4 linked regions of the Homo sapiens genome follow. The protein of the gene in region 4 purifies or fractionates together with the protein of the main gene of each other region. This does not show direct contact. Each region holds a gene or a part of one and is shown on either strand. Other genes may lie near its edges.

Region 1 (3,500 bases), on a different chromosome or scaffold from region 4:
CCTGGGCAACAAAGTGAAACTGTCTCAGAAAAAAAAAAAAGAATATCACCTAGTTCCTGCTTTCAAGGAATCTGAGAACACTGACGATACTGTTTATTCTACCAGGTCTTACTCTCAGGATCCAACCGTACTCTCCTGGAACATCAGCTTATTTTTAACTTGTAGACAGTGTAGAGAAGTTCCAGAGCCAACTCTGCCTGCTTCCTCTAGAGAAATTTATAAAACCTTACGCAATACACTTCATTCCAATCTTCACTAGTGTTTCCTTATTTTTTAAAGAAATCTGGGTGTGCTATATTGTAAGGACTTCAGATACTTCTTGGATAAGACAAGAGTAATATAAGTAAAATAGTAACTCGGACAACGCTCTTCTCTCCAGCATAATTTCTGTTTTATAAATACAGCCTAGAGCCATGCTGCTTAACCTCAGAATTATCTGAAGATCTCTTTAAGATAGCACTGTATCAGATCCTTTCTCCAGAGATTCTGACTCCAGTGTCTCTTAAGTGGCCTTAGGTAGGGTGTGCTGTTCACACTCAGAAAAAAAAACCCTACTCACTCTGATCCCCACACTGACAGCAAAGGATGGCTGGCTGAAAATCTCAACAACAGTATTCAGGTAAGTTTGCTCCCCTACTCACTCTGATCCACACACTGACAGCAAAGGATGGCTGGCTGAAAATCTCAACAACAGTATTCAGGTAAGTTTGCTCCCCTACTCACTCTGATCCACACACTGACAGCAAAGGATGGCTGGCTGAAAATCTCAACAACAGTATTCAGGTAAGTTTGCTCCCCTACTCACTCTGATCCACACACTGACAGCAAAGGATGGCTGGCTGAAAATCTCAACAACAGTATGCAGGTAAGTTTGCTCCCCTACTCACTCTGATCCACACACTGACAGCAAAGGATGGCTGGCTGAAAATCTCAACAACAGTATTCAGGTAAGTTTGCTCCCCTACTCACTCTGATCCACACACTGACAGCAAAGGATGGCTGGCTGAAAATCTCAACAACAGTATTCAGGTAAGTTTGCTCCCCTACTCACTCTGTTCCCTACACTGACAGCAAAGGATGGCTGGCTGAAAATCTCAACAACAGTATTCAGGTAAGTTTGCTCCCCTACTCATTCTGATCCACACACTGACAGCAAAGGATGGCTGGCTGAAAATCTCAACAACAGTATTCAGGTAAGTTTGCTCCCCTACTCACTCTGATCCACACACTGACAGCAAAGAATGGCTGGCTGAAAATCTCAACAACAGTATTCAGGTAAGTTTGCTCCCCTACTCATTCTGATCCCCACACTGACAGCAAAGAATGGCTGGCTGAAAATCTCAACAACAGTATTCAGGTAAGTTTGCTCCCCTACTCATTCTGATCCCCACACTGACAGCAAAGAATGGCTGGCTGAAAATCTCAACAACAGTATTCAGGTAAGTTTGCTCCCCTACTCATTCTGATCCCCACACTGACAGCAAAGAATGGCTGGCTGAAAATCTCAACAAAAGTATTCAGGTAAGTTTGCCTTTGCAGTAAGCAGATCTAGGGAAGCAGCATGAAATGAACCAAAAAATACTTTCCCATCATTTATTATCTCAGTAGGGAACGAATGGTGCTGGTGAACTGATACGCATGAATTTCTCGATCACATTTTAGCAGAAGAGGAACAAATACTAATTTGATTAATATAATATGAATTAGTACTCTTAATTGGAATATCACTCAGTAGAAATTGAATTTTATGAGGTCTTATGTTTCAGCTTTAACGAGAAGATTTTGCAGGGAGGAAAAAAATCATTCTGTTGGATTTTATGAACAAGATTTCCTTTTATTATTTCCACTAGTCACTGGTAATACTAGTGAACACCTGAGAGATTAAAATACAGATTTGCTTTGAGATCCTGGAAGTATTATACCAAATTAAATTACTTACTTTGAAAACCATGAGAAGAATCAGAAGAGGATGGCATGGACATTAAAATAAAATTTCCCTATTAATAATAGGGAATAAATGGTTCTAATGAAACATTAGTCTTATTCAATTATGATATGTGAAACTATCCTGCAACAGAGAACAAATTTCTTAATATAATCTCAAAGATAACAGTAATAGAAACCAATCTTTTAAACAACAATCTCACTCTGTAAATTTATGGACTTGGCATGTTCTACTTCTACTAATTCAAACCAAGTGCATATTTCCGTCAAGTCTATGGAGGATACAATGTTTCCTACAGAAGTAGTATTACCACTGCTTTCTAAATAACCCACGCTGAAAGGTAACTATAAAAGTTATCTAGGAATAGGAATTGACCATTTCCATCTCTTCATCTTTTATTCTGGTTCCTCCCAGAAATATATCAACATTCTAAGATTATTTTGCATGGTAAAAACAGACATGAAAATATATGTCCAATACCTAGTACTGCATTTTTTAAAAATTACAAAACACCATGTAAAGTGTATGGTCAGATGTATTGATCATGAAAATGGATGCAGTTATGCACACATGGTCTTTTCACAGAGAAAGAAAAAAGATGACAAATGTAAAATGAGGATGGGGCAAGGCTAGTCCTTAATAGATAGGAATATTAGTTGGAAATATGTATTCGTTTGACTAAGCAGAAATAAAATATGTTAACTCTGAAAATTTGGAGAGATGAGAAACAGACAGGATGAAGAGGAGGAGGATATATAGAACTTAATATTTTGGTATCACAAAATATAGGTGAGCCAAGAATAAAACTGGAGCTTAACCAATGAATGGAGGATTCACCTGTGTCTGGGAGCTTAGGTACCACAACTGCTTATAGTACACTATGCAGCCCCTTCCTCCCACTAATAACAAGAATAGTCACATGTGAATGGAATAAGTAAATGTTAAGGGAACAATAACACAGTAGCTCCATCTTGGGGCAGGTTCTGAGGAGTGATTTGGAAAGAATATGTACAGAATGCAAAGCATGAAATCACAAAGGGACAGAAATGTTTTAAAAATGAAAGGAACTATAATATAGTTACTACACTGTGATTTGAGCTTAGATACCTCTTGACATCTACTAAAAACTACATTGTTGTGGACCCACATAGCTTCACCTGCTCTACGCGGTAGCCTTGTACACGTGGGGGAAAAGTGCAGCCCTACATAATGGTAGAGTTCACCAGCCACTATAATGGTGGTATTCTCCATAGCACTGTAGTATCCAAATGTTGCTGTGATACCATTATCTTTTTAAAAAATGCTGAATTATCTGCCTCTCAGGATCAAAATCAACGACAATTATTTGATCTACATGAAAATAAGTTAAGTATCTGGACAGATTTGTGCATGCCTGCGACAGTCACAATACTACATTGTAGCACTGTAAAACAATCTTCTATTGAAGTAATAATTCCTTCTAAAGTTCAAATGATAATGCTGAAGCCCAACCAGGTAATGCTGCAAGGAAACCTCTGTCTGCGAAAGATGAAATTAAACAAACAAAAGCTGGAAC
Region 2 (3,500 bases), on a different chromosome or scaffold from region 4:
TCAGTATCACCTACACTACTGTCTGGTACAGGGCGGTGGTGGCCGTGGTGGCTCCCTAAAAGAAAGTCTGGGAGGCAGGAGAATGAATACTGGGCAAGCAAGCAATATCCACTACACTTATCTTTTATTGCTGGCAATCTAATTTTTTAAGCCAATATATAATTTACATACAATAAAAATATCCTTTTAAAATGCCAAAATACATATGTCTGAGGACTAGCTTTCCTGGGCTGAAACCTCTGCTCCCTACGTGCTCTGCAGAATTCAGGGGACAAGTTCCAAGTGATGCCATATTTCTACTCACTCACACATAAAGGTCCTCTGTTTTCCCAGGATGAAAGCCAGTGTTATTTGGAAGAGGCCTAGGCACAGGGTGCTAGAAAGGTTTTCCTCACTCAAGACATACTTGCAGGTGTGGATCGATCTCAAATATGGTCTCTCCCCTCCGCATGTCAGTTATCAGCCAGGGGCCGCCAGCACTGTGGACAAGGAAAGGGGATACAATGGTAACTGAGGGTCTGGGGCTGATGGGCTGGGCCTACAGCCTGCCCTGTTTGCTGCCCCAGGCCTAGGACACAGGGGAATAGTTCGTGGTCAGGGACTGTCAGGGAGTGAGTCGTCAGGAAGCCCTGATGTGAAAAACCAGGGTCTGAAATAACAACGCAAGAGGGAGCCCCACATGGAGGGTAGTGGAGGGACTCCCACCCCCAGGCCCAGGGAGCCGCGCTCCCACCTTGCATGGGTACTCACATAGGCACTGTCCGCAGCAGCTCCAGGATGCCCTGCCCGTTCCACTGCTGGGCTGAGTGTAGCTCTTCAGTGCAGACACCAACGATCTGAGGCCCAGGATAGAAAGCCCATTGTGTGTTAATGGCCACCCCCCACCCCAAGAAGGTCAGCTACCCAGGCTCTCTGAGTCACCTCCAGTTGGGAGACCACAGGCAGGATCTGTGCTCAGGAGCTGGTGCAGCCAAGATTGGATGATTCCCTTAGGAGGGAGTGGCTGCCTGGCTGGGAAATGGCTGGGTCCACATGTGGGCCCTGAGGCCTGACCCTTGCCCTTGCTGTGTCTGGATGACACCAAGTCTAGCTCTTAGCTACAAAGGAGAAAACCAAGGCCTGAGCAACTCAAGATGTGTCCTCAGGCCATGTCTCTGGAAGTAGGGGAGGTTCAGGGAGCCATTCCTACCCAGTCTGGTATCATGGGGAATGTAAACAAGAGACTTTGAGACCTATCAGGCTTGGAACCACCACCAATAGGTCATAGCAGCCTGCAGAGAAACTCCTCCCTTCCTTATTAGGGGATAGGCCTTTGTGTAAATATCAAGGGAATCAGTGGAACCTTCACATAGACTTCGTGACCAAAAACAAGCACTGGTCAAAGCTGGGCAGGTTCCCACAGCTTCTGGCAAAGAGCAAGGACGACCCAGAGCTGGCTTCCCGCTGGAAAGTCCTGTTCCTGAGACTGGGTCTTCACTGTTCAAAGAATACCCGCCACCCCATTACTCCCTCTCAGCTACAGCCATTCTCTCCCAACCAAATGCCCCCTTCCCTTTCTCCCCTCTCCCATCTCAGCAGGTTAAATCAGACCATCTGAATCTACCTGACAAACCATCAGAGGAAACAGAAATCAGGACGAGGCCAAAGGAAACCTCCCACTCCCTTCACTCCCCCTCCTCAAGCCTCCTTGTCCTCCCAGGACCCTTCCCACAGGAAGGCTTGAGCCAGCGTCCAACCTGTGCCTCACCTGGAGGAAGGTAACTACCCCAAAGGGTGTCTGCACGGGCTGCATCTGTGGGTCCTCTGTCAGCAGCATGTGCTGAATTCTTGACTCACTGTTATCCAAAGGGCTGTGCCAGGACACATGGTCCCCACTGCAGAAGGTGTTCTCTGTGGGAGAGATACAAGGATCCTCATTGTTCAAGGCCCCAGATCCAGGCCTGGAATCTGGGCTGGGATCTCACTAGCCCAGGCTGGGAGGCTTCCCAGCCTCTTAGGGTAGCCCCTGTGAAGGAAGAGAAGCATTCACTCCGGATGGAAGCAAAGAGTTTGTGGATATTTCCAAAAACCTAAATTGTTCCTGCTTGCCAGTTCTGTCAGACTTGAAAAGGACAGGCTATTAGTGTGAAAGCTCCTTCGGCCTGGGAAACCAGAAAGACTTCTGGCATCTGCTTCGCTTCCCCAATATCCCGACTCATGGTGGGAGGCAGGAGCCATGACTGGATCTGCCAAGAAAGAATAAGGTGCTTTTCTGTAGGGCCACCTGGCCAGAAGTCCACAGAGAGGCAACAGGGCAATGAAAGCCCTTCACCTTGGAGAAACAGACCGAAATTCCTATGTTGCTGAAATGGCACTCAGAAGGAAACATCGAACCTTGGAGAGCCTTTGAAATCTATCACCATTTTCCCACAGGCAGATGTAGGAATTCCTGAGGAACACTAGGCTTCAAGTAAATGGAGGTCTAAATAGTGCCTCCCACACCGTGGCAGAGACAACTCATGAGGATCCTCAGGCCATGTCTCTGAGATGTTCAGATTCTGCCAAGGGTAGCTGTTGCCATGAGGGCATAGCCTCCTCACACACAGGCTCACCACTGCACTTCAAGCAGGTACGTTACTTTAGAGAGAGTTTTGTTTAAGGCCACATAACCACAAGGGAAAACAACCCCACAGGGTACTAAGTCTCTCACCAGCTCTGACTCTCATCGTGGGTGCCAAGGTGCTCTATATGTCCAGCCTATGCATCCACAGGCTCCCTTCCATGTTTTGTCCTTACACAAATGGAAGCACACTATTCTGCAGATTTCACTTAATTATATATCTTAGACAGCACCTTTTTTTTTTTAATATGGAACACTTCACGAATTTGCATGTCATCCTTGCGCAGGGGCCATACTAATCTTCTCTGTATCGTTCCAATTTTAGTATATGTGCTGCTGAAGTGAGCACGAGATCACCTTTTTTTTTTTTTTTTGAGATGGAGTCTCGCTCTGTTGCCAGGCTGCAGTGCAGTGGCGCGATCTCTGCTCACTGCAACCTCCGCCTCCTGGGTTCAAGCGATTCTCCTGCCTCAGCCTCCTGAGTAGCTGGGATTACTGGCATGTGCCACCACACCTGGCTAATTTTTTGTATTTTTAGTAGAGGTGGGATTTCACGGTGTTAGCCAGGATGGCCTCGATCTCCTGACCTCGTGATCCGCCCTCCTCGGCCTCCCAAAGTGCGGGGATTACAAGTATGAGCCACAGCACCCAGCAGAGATCACTGCTTCTCAGCATATGGAGAGCTATCTCATTCTTTAAATGGCTGTTCCAGAGTTCACTATGGTCTGTCATTCACGATCTCGGAATCTCAACAGTTGAGGTATCTTTCTTCACTTTTTATCAATATTTAAGGTAAGGCAGAACACACACATACACACACAGACACACCTTTTCCATCCAAGATACGGCTTCAGTTATTGGTCCTAACCTCAATAGTGTTCATTCAGGCAGGAGAAGGAAG
Region 3 (3,500 bases), on a different chromosome or scaffold from region 4:
AAACTAATGAGCCTTTTGAGACAGGGAGGGAACCATAGATAGACCATTTCCCATACTTAATTGGGAACACAAGTATCAAGATATGGACTACCTACTGTGCTTAAGAGTAGGTTCTAGGCCGGGCACAGTGGCTCACACCTGTAATCCCCGCACTGCCCGGTAGAATTTTATATAATAGTAGAAATGTTCTATATCTGCACTTTTCCATTTTGGCGATCACCAGCCACATGTGACTGTTGAGTACTTGGAATGTGGCAGCATAACTGGAACTGAACTGTACATTTTATTTAAATAAGTCACATGTGCCCAGTGGCTGCCATTTTGGATAGTGCAGATATAAATATAAACCAGATTAATTTTCTAGCTTTTTTAAGGAAAATGTTTTCATTAATTAGGAATAGTTATCTACAATAATCATTAGGTTTCTGGAATAACAGTAAGAGCTATGAGAGTGCATGATTCCATTTCTCTCCAGAATATTTCAGTGCTTTCTCACCTTGAAAAATGAAAACAATCTATTCAGACGGTTGGGAATATTTTAATTTTCTACTTAAAACTAAGGTTATTCTCCACTTGAGGTAATGTAGAGGAGATTCTTCTCTTTACTGTATCTACATGTGTTACATTTTAGCTCACAAACCCTTGTTGGTGATGGAGAGTTAACATGAATAATTAGGACATCTTGGATTATACTGAACTGCTGGCTATTACCATGGTATTTAAATGAATTTATAATCAGATCTTCTAAATGTTAGGTGTCTCTAAACATCGAATTTTTCTTGCAGCCTTGTCTTAAAAGAAGAAGCATCTGATTACCTTGAATTGGATACAATTAAAAATCTCGTCAAAAAATATTCACAGTTCATAAACTTTCCTATTTATGTATGGAGCAGCAAGGTAAATCTATATTGATTAAAAACTTATATGTATTACCTTGGCACGTATTTAAATATTCAACACTAAAAGAATGAAGGCAGGCCGGCGCGGTGGCTCATGCTTGTAATCCCCGCACTTTGGGAGGCCGAGACAGGTGGATCACCTGAGGTCAGGAGTTCGAGACCAGCCTGGCCAACATGGCGAAACCCTGTCTCTACTAAAAATACAAAAATGTTAGCTGGGTGTGTGGTAGCACACGCCTGTAATCCCAGCTACTCGGGAGGCTGAAGCAGGAGAATTGCTTGAACCCGGGAGACGGAGGTTGCAGTGAGCCAAGATCGCCCCACTGCACTCCAGCCTAGGTGACAAAGCAAGACTCTGTCTCAAAAAAAAAAAAAAAGAATGAAGGCAAAATGTGGTCTATTAGTTAAGGATACTCTCAGGGTTTTCTTACAAAAACCTATTTTTTGACCTGTAATGTTATATCATATTCTGTAGACAAAATCAGAATTGTTAAACAAATGAGTTTAACCATAATTCTCTTATTTCAACAGACTGAAACTGTTGAGGAGCCCATGGAGGAAGAAGAAGCAGCCAAAGAAGAGAAAGAAGAATCTGATGATGAAGCTGCAGTAGAGGAAGAAGAAGAAGAAAAGAAACCAAAGACTAAAAAAGTAAGTCTGGTTTATCTCCCTGCATAAGATATTGTTTAACATGTATAGGCAAAACCAGGAAAACCTAAGTATGCACTGGCTGATTTGAAGTCAGCTTCAGTTCAGGTGCTAAGTCCATGGAGCCAGCTTTTAAAATAAGGCCTTTGTTTGTATGTTGAATACATTGTCCTGTAGAAAGTTTTAAGTATCAAACCCAGGTCATTTTTATGAAGAGTTTTCTAACTTTTATATATTGCCTAGGACTGGTGGCTTATATGTTTGGAATTTTAAAATCTTAAAAAGCCTTCTGAGTCCTCTTTTGTCTTTTTATCATGCAGAGATTAACCATAAAAATGGTTCTCTGGCTTGCTTAGGTAGCAGACTAAGAAGTATTGATCATGGTGGTTGAGAAATATTTTTGTAAAATGTTGGATTTCTTTAAGTCATGAAATGGGAATATATAATATGTATTTCCTTCTAACCTCAAAACAAATATTTTCAAGAAACATTTTTGCTAGTTAAAAAATAACAATGAAGAAAAACTTAAGTGGCTTTTCATCAGTTAACAATTGTCTTTTTGAATTAAATATTGAGAAAAATACTTTGCTTTTGATACAGTTGGCAGAAACCTTACTAGATAACAGGTATCCTTTGGTGCCCTTTTTTTTTTTTTCTTTAATTTGGAGACAGAGTCTCTGCCACCCAGGCTGGAGTGTGGTAGCACGATCATAGCTCCCTTCATCCTTGAACTCCTAGGCTTAAGCAGTCCTTTCACCTCAGCCTCCCAAGTAGCTAGGACCACAGACACACGCCACCATGACTGGCTAAGTTTTAAAAATTTTTTGTATAGTTGGAGGTCTTGCTATGTTGCCTGGACTGGTCTTGAACTCCTAGGCTCAAACAGTTCTCCTACCCTAACCTCCCAAAGTGCTAGGATTACAGGCGTGAGCCACCACACCAGTCCTCTGGGTCTTTACATAGTCTTTTGAAATCTACTGAAGCCATGGTTACTGCTAGGATAACCTTGGTGAGTGCTGAGAGAGACTAATCAAATACTATAATAACTTCAGGTTGAAAAAACTGTCTGGGACTGGGAACTTATGAATGATATCAAACCAATATGGCAGAGACCATCAAAAGAAGTAGAAGAAGATGAATACAAAGCTTTCTACAAATCATTTTCAAAGGTAAATATTTATAATTCCCTAGTTTCTGGTTATTAATGAATAGACAAAATATCACCCTCTTAGTTTAATTGTATATGGTATGTGACCATGAATATGAGATGGTCCATTCCCATTTTTTCCCAGTGAGAAAATTCAAAAAAAGACCTTTAGGCCAACTATAATATGTCTACTTCTGGTTTATTGACCTAGTCACAATTAAAATCACATTTATGAACCTTTGAGATTGACACCTCAGTAGAGATGGTCTTTGAGAGTAATTGGTTTCCAGAACACACCATTTTTACTTAAGTTGAATTATTATACTCATCACTACTTCAAAATTGCAGCAGTTATTAAAATTAGTCCTAGCTCTTAGTGAATAGTGAAACTACAAAATCAAGAATGTTTGAAACAGTTTTATGGCTGTTTAAACACAATTGGTTTCCTTTTTATTCCTGTGTATTTTGTAATATGTGATTTTTTTAAAAAAATTATTTTGAGAAGGCATCTGTAGCCTTCACCAGCTTGCCAAGGGTTTTGTGTGACAAAAAAAGATTAAGAACCACCTACATAGGTAGATGTGTGATTTCCACCACAAAACCCGTAAAACATGAAATCATGTTGTTAAGTGGCTTTTAATATAATCTTTAAAGAGCTTGCTTATGACATCAAACACTTATTGTGAGATCCTATGCCTGGGAATAATTACTAAATTTATGTTTCCTTGCCTGTTTTTTTTTTTCTTCTTCTTTTATTGATCCCTTCTTGTAACTCTTAAGGATGCAAAACTAGCATTGATAAAGTT
Region 4 (3,500 bases):
GGACCTGGACGAACCCTTTGGTATTACCTAATGTTCATATGTTCATCATTTCCCTCACAAGAACTACAGCCTACACAGAGGTCAGGCGACTTGCTCAAAGTATGGCGATGGCTGTGGCAGAGCTGAGGTGTGAACTGTGGTCCTGACTCCCTGTCTGGTGCTCTTTCCATCTCACCGCTCTGCCTCGTGCATACAGCCACTCTCGTGCCCCCTGCCACTTTCCTCAGTATGGCCACATAGAAACAGAGGGCAGGATTTCCAGGTTAGAAGATAGCATGGCAACTGAGAACTTGGGCAGAGGGTCAGAGATAGAAGCAGCTGTGATAAATTGTGTTTATCTAGTTCCGTGGTTCCTAGGCCTGGGGCTAGCTGGGTCCAAATCACCCTGGGGCCCTTGCTAAGATGACAGCCATATTAAGTCAGAATCTTCAGAATAAGCGGGCTCAGAAATCTGTCATTTTGACAAGTGCCTCCAGTGGTTTCACATGAGCCAGGTTTTGGAGCTGCTGGTCTAATCCATTAAGACGATACTCTTCTCTGTCTGGGGTCTTTTCACAGATGACTGCAGAGGTATGTCCACCAGCAGCCCATGTGATCTGTCCAGTGGGAAGACAGCTGTCCTGCTGTCGATTCCTGTGTGTGCAGTGGTTCTTGCTCTCCTTGCAGGTGGCTCAGTTCTGCTAAATCAGGCTGGTCAGAGCCTAGCTACATATTTCCATCCAGCAGCCACTGGTGTCAGAAGGACGTTAACAGGGCGAGTTTTAGAGTAAAAGGAAGGTGACCCTGGAGGGTGTGCTAGCTGAAAGAACCTAGAGTCTGGGGAGAGGAAAACCTGTGGTCTACCCTGTTCTTCTCTTGTTACTGTGTAAACATTGACAAGCTGCACTGAATCTCATTTTTCCTCATCTTGAAATAGTTTAGGTGACCAATAAAGTTTCAAAGAGTTTCTAGGTATTCATTCATTCAACATTCACAGAACACTTGCCTTCTCCTGCACTGTTGCATCCCATATTGGGTTAGATGTTCTTTCTAGATGCTCTTTCGTTCCGTGTCACATGCACCATTGAGGGAAAGGACTGTGCCTTGTGTCCATTGCGTCTTCAGAGCCCAACCCTTGTTGTGCAAGAAGTGAAGTGAATGTTGGCAGATGTGTTGGGCTCTGTGCTAGGCCCTGGGGAAATGGTGGTGGATAAAACTTGGTCCCTCCCTGTCAGCATTTACAGTTCAGGGTCTAGGTGTGTGTGAGGTTGGGTGTAGTTCTAGAATTCCAGCAGGAGAACTCTTAGGTAGCACATGGAAATCATCCAGTGAACTTTTATAGACTACCTGTGCTTGGGCCTTAGTTTCAGAATTTCTGAGTCTCTGCGTCTGGGCAGGGTATGTGTAGGGGAGAGGCAGGTCTGGGCATCTGAGTTTAGATGAAGCAGGTGATTCTGCCTTGCAGCCTGGGTTGGGCACCACAGTTGTCAGTCAATTCCTTTTCACCCAGTTGTCACTGAGAAGCATGAGGCCCAAGCAAATTCTACTCCCTGAGTAGCTGGGACACGCCCCCATGATTCAGTTCCCAGTGTGCTACAATTATTGGTTGTATCTTTTTCTCCGTTCCCTCTAGCTGTTTGATGAAGACAATCCAGTACACAAGTCTGGAACCAGATACATGTTCACAACAGAGGGACACATTGTATCTGTGGATGAGCATCTTCGGGAATTGCCATGGAAGGAATTCTTCTCTGAAGAGGGAGGGCAGGACCAAGGGGGAAAGTCTGTGCACAGGCCGAAACCTCATGAGTTAAAAGTCATCAACTCCAGCTCCAACGTGAGTTGCTTTTTCCAGGGGTGATTTGCATATAGAGGAAGAGAAGATACTATGAATTGCTTAGTTGTTCAGACTTCCTGACAGAAAATTGATGGTGTATGCAGATTGGGAGATTTGAAAACACCTCCTAAAGACACCATTTACATAGCTGTTGTCAGGGTATAGGGAAACCGCAGGAGCAGCGGTGGCATCATCACTGCTGGCTGCAGGTGCTGGTGGGGAGAGTGGCTACAGGATCCTGGAAGGGGGGAGCCTTGTGGGAGGAGCGAGCACTCAGCAGGAGCCACGGCTCAGATCTGACTTTCAAGGCCTTGCCTGGAGGGAGCCGGCAGAGTCAACATGTGACCCCTCCCCGCTCCCCCAGTTGCCTGCTGGAGCATCTTCTTGGCTGCCTGGGGCAGAAGCTGGAGGCCGAGGGAGCCTGTTGATATGATCCATCAGTGGACCTGGAGGGGCAAATGGAAGACATTCAGCAAAATCATTTACCAGCAGCAGAAGGGAAAAAAAGCAGTGATGGTCACGATGGTCCCAATGAAGATGCTCTTCGAAGTGCAGCAAACACCCACATTCATTTAAAGTGGGGCTTTACTCCACATGCCTAGATTGTCCTGAGAAGCAGCAGGAAAAATTTGGAAATGGAAGTCCTTGCATCCCTAGTGAAAGTATCAGGTAGTTGTGTTGATTTGAATCAAATAGGATGATTTGGAAGTGAGGATAGGGAAATGTAGGTCAGTCAAAATTTCAAATCTTGTTATCCCCCAGGGCCTTGGTGGTCAGGAGTTCGGCAGCCTCCCCACAGATGGGTTGCCTTGGCATTAGGGGTGCCCTCTCATCGCCGACTGTGCTTCAGTGCTTTTCCGTTAATGCCCCAGTGAAGGTCTTCACCATCAGTCTATGAAGTAAATCGATAGGCCAGAGTGTAGATAACCACCCCCGCCCCCATTTCCATCAGTCATGGAGCGCTGATTGAGTGGACAAAGCATAATCGGGAGGAAGGGGAAGGAGGGTGAGAGGGGGAAGAGTTAATAACAGCCAGCATTTGCAAACACATACCAGGGTTAGCCTTTGCACCATTCTAAACGCTTACGTACATTAATCTGTTTACTTCTAACAACAGCCCTGTGAGGGGTGGTTACTTTTAACATCTCCATTTTACAGCTGAAGAAAGGGAGGCACAGAGAGGTTCAGGTCCCACAGTGGAGCCAGGATTTGGACCCAGGCAGTGTCTTCTCTTTTAGGAAGGAGACATCTCTGACCTGCCATACTCACTAATAGATCTGATCCCATGATTCCAGGCACCAGGGATTCAGGCCCTCAGAAGGGCTCCCGGTTCTGGATAGGAGCATGGCCTAGTGGGGAATCCACTTCCATCCTAGGCGTTTGTCTGTAGTGCTGTTGAAACACAGAGGGTAGGGAGTAATCTCCAGAGAAAATCAAGGCAGGATTCCCTGAGGAGGTCACTTGCTGGAGATCCTTGAAGGATGAAAAGGGGTATCCCAGAAAGGGTGTTCAGGCAGAAGCAGTAGCACCTGCAAAAGCACAGAGATGTGGGCTGGTGGGGGCAGTCGGGACCAATGGAAGGACCGGCCAGTCTTGATCTTGCCAGGGATGAGGAGCAGGGTGTAGTAAGTTCAACTTACTACAAAGCGTGGGGAAAATGTTTCTTTGGAGATGAAGCAGATAA

The links.
Region 1: the proteins of EDEM1 (region 4) and USP25 purify together in Homo sapiens (affinity purification with mass spectrometry, with the first as the bait; one study listed by BioGRID). This does not show direct contact.
Region 2: the proteins of EDEM1 (region 4) and SUFU purify together in Homo sapiens (affinity purification with mass spectrometry; 2 studies listed by BioGRID and IntAct, with this or other methods). This does not show direct contact.
Region 3: the proteins of EDEM1 (region 4) and HSP90B1 purify together in Homo sapiens (affinity purification with mass spectrometry, with the first as the bait; 2 studies listed by BioGRID). This does not show direct contact.

The regions. Positions count from the first base shown.
Region 1 is NC_000021.9:15,834,482-15,837,981, reverse strand, and holds part of USP25 (ubiquitin carboxyl-terminal hydrolase 25), read right to left. Parts: intron 1-3,500. UniProt on the Homo sapiens protein: Deubiquitinating enzyme that hydrolyzes ubiquitin moieties conjugated to substrates and thus, functions in various biological processes including inflammation and immune response.
Region 2 is NC_000010.11:102,590,972-102,594,471, reverse strand, and holds part of SUFU (suppressor of fused homolog), read right to left. Parts: intron 1,891-3,500; coding exon 1,748-1,890; intron 837-1,747; coding exon 751-836; intron 480-750; coding exon 407-479; intron 1-406. UniProt on the Homo sapiens protein: Negative regulator in the hedgehog/smoothened signaling pathway. Down-regulates GLI1-mediated transactivation of target genes. Down-regulates GLI2-mediated transactivation of target genes. Part of a corepressor complex that acts on DNA-bound GLI1.
Region 3 is NC_000012.12:103,936,910-103,940,409, forward strand, and holds part of HSP90B1 (endoplasmin precursor), read left to right. Parts: intron 1-785; coding exon 786-897; intron 898-1,430; coding exon 1,431-1,550; intron 1,551-2,599; coding exon 2,600-2,716; intron 2,717-3,500.
Region 4 is NC_000003.12:5,211,707-5,215,206, forward strand, and holds part of EDEM1 (ER degradation-enhancing alpha-mannosidase-like protein 1), read left to right. Parts: intron 1-1,612; coding exon 1,613-1,816; intron 1,817-3,500. UniProt on the Homo sapiens protein: Extracts misfolded glycoproteins, but not glycoproteins undergoing productive folding, from the calnexin cycle.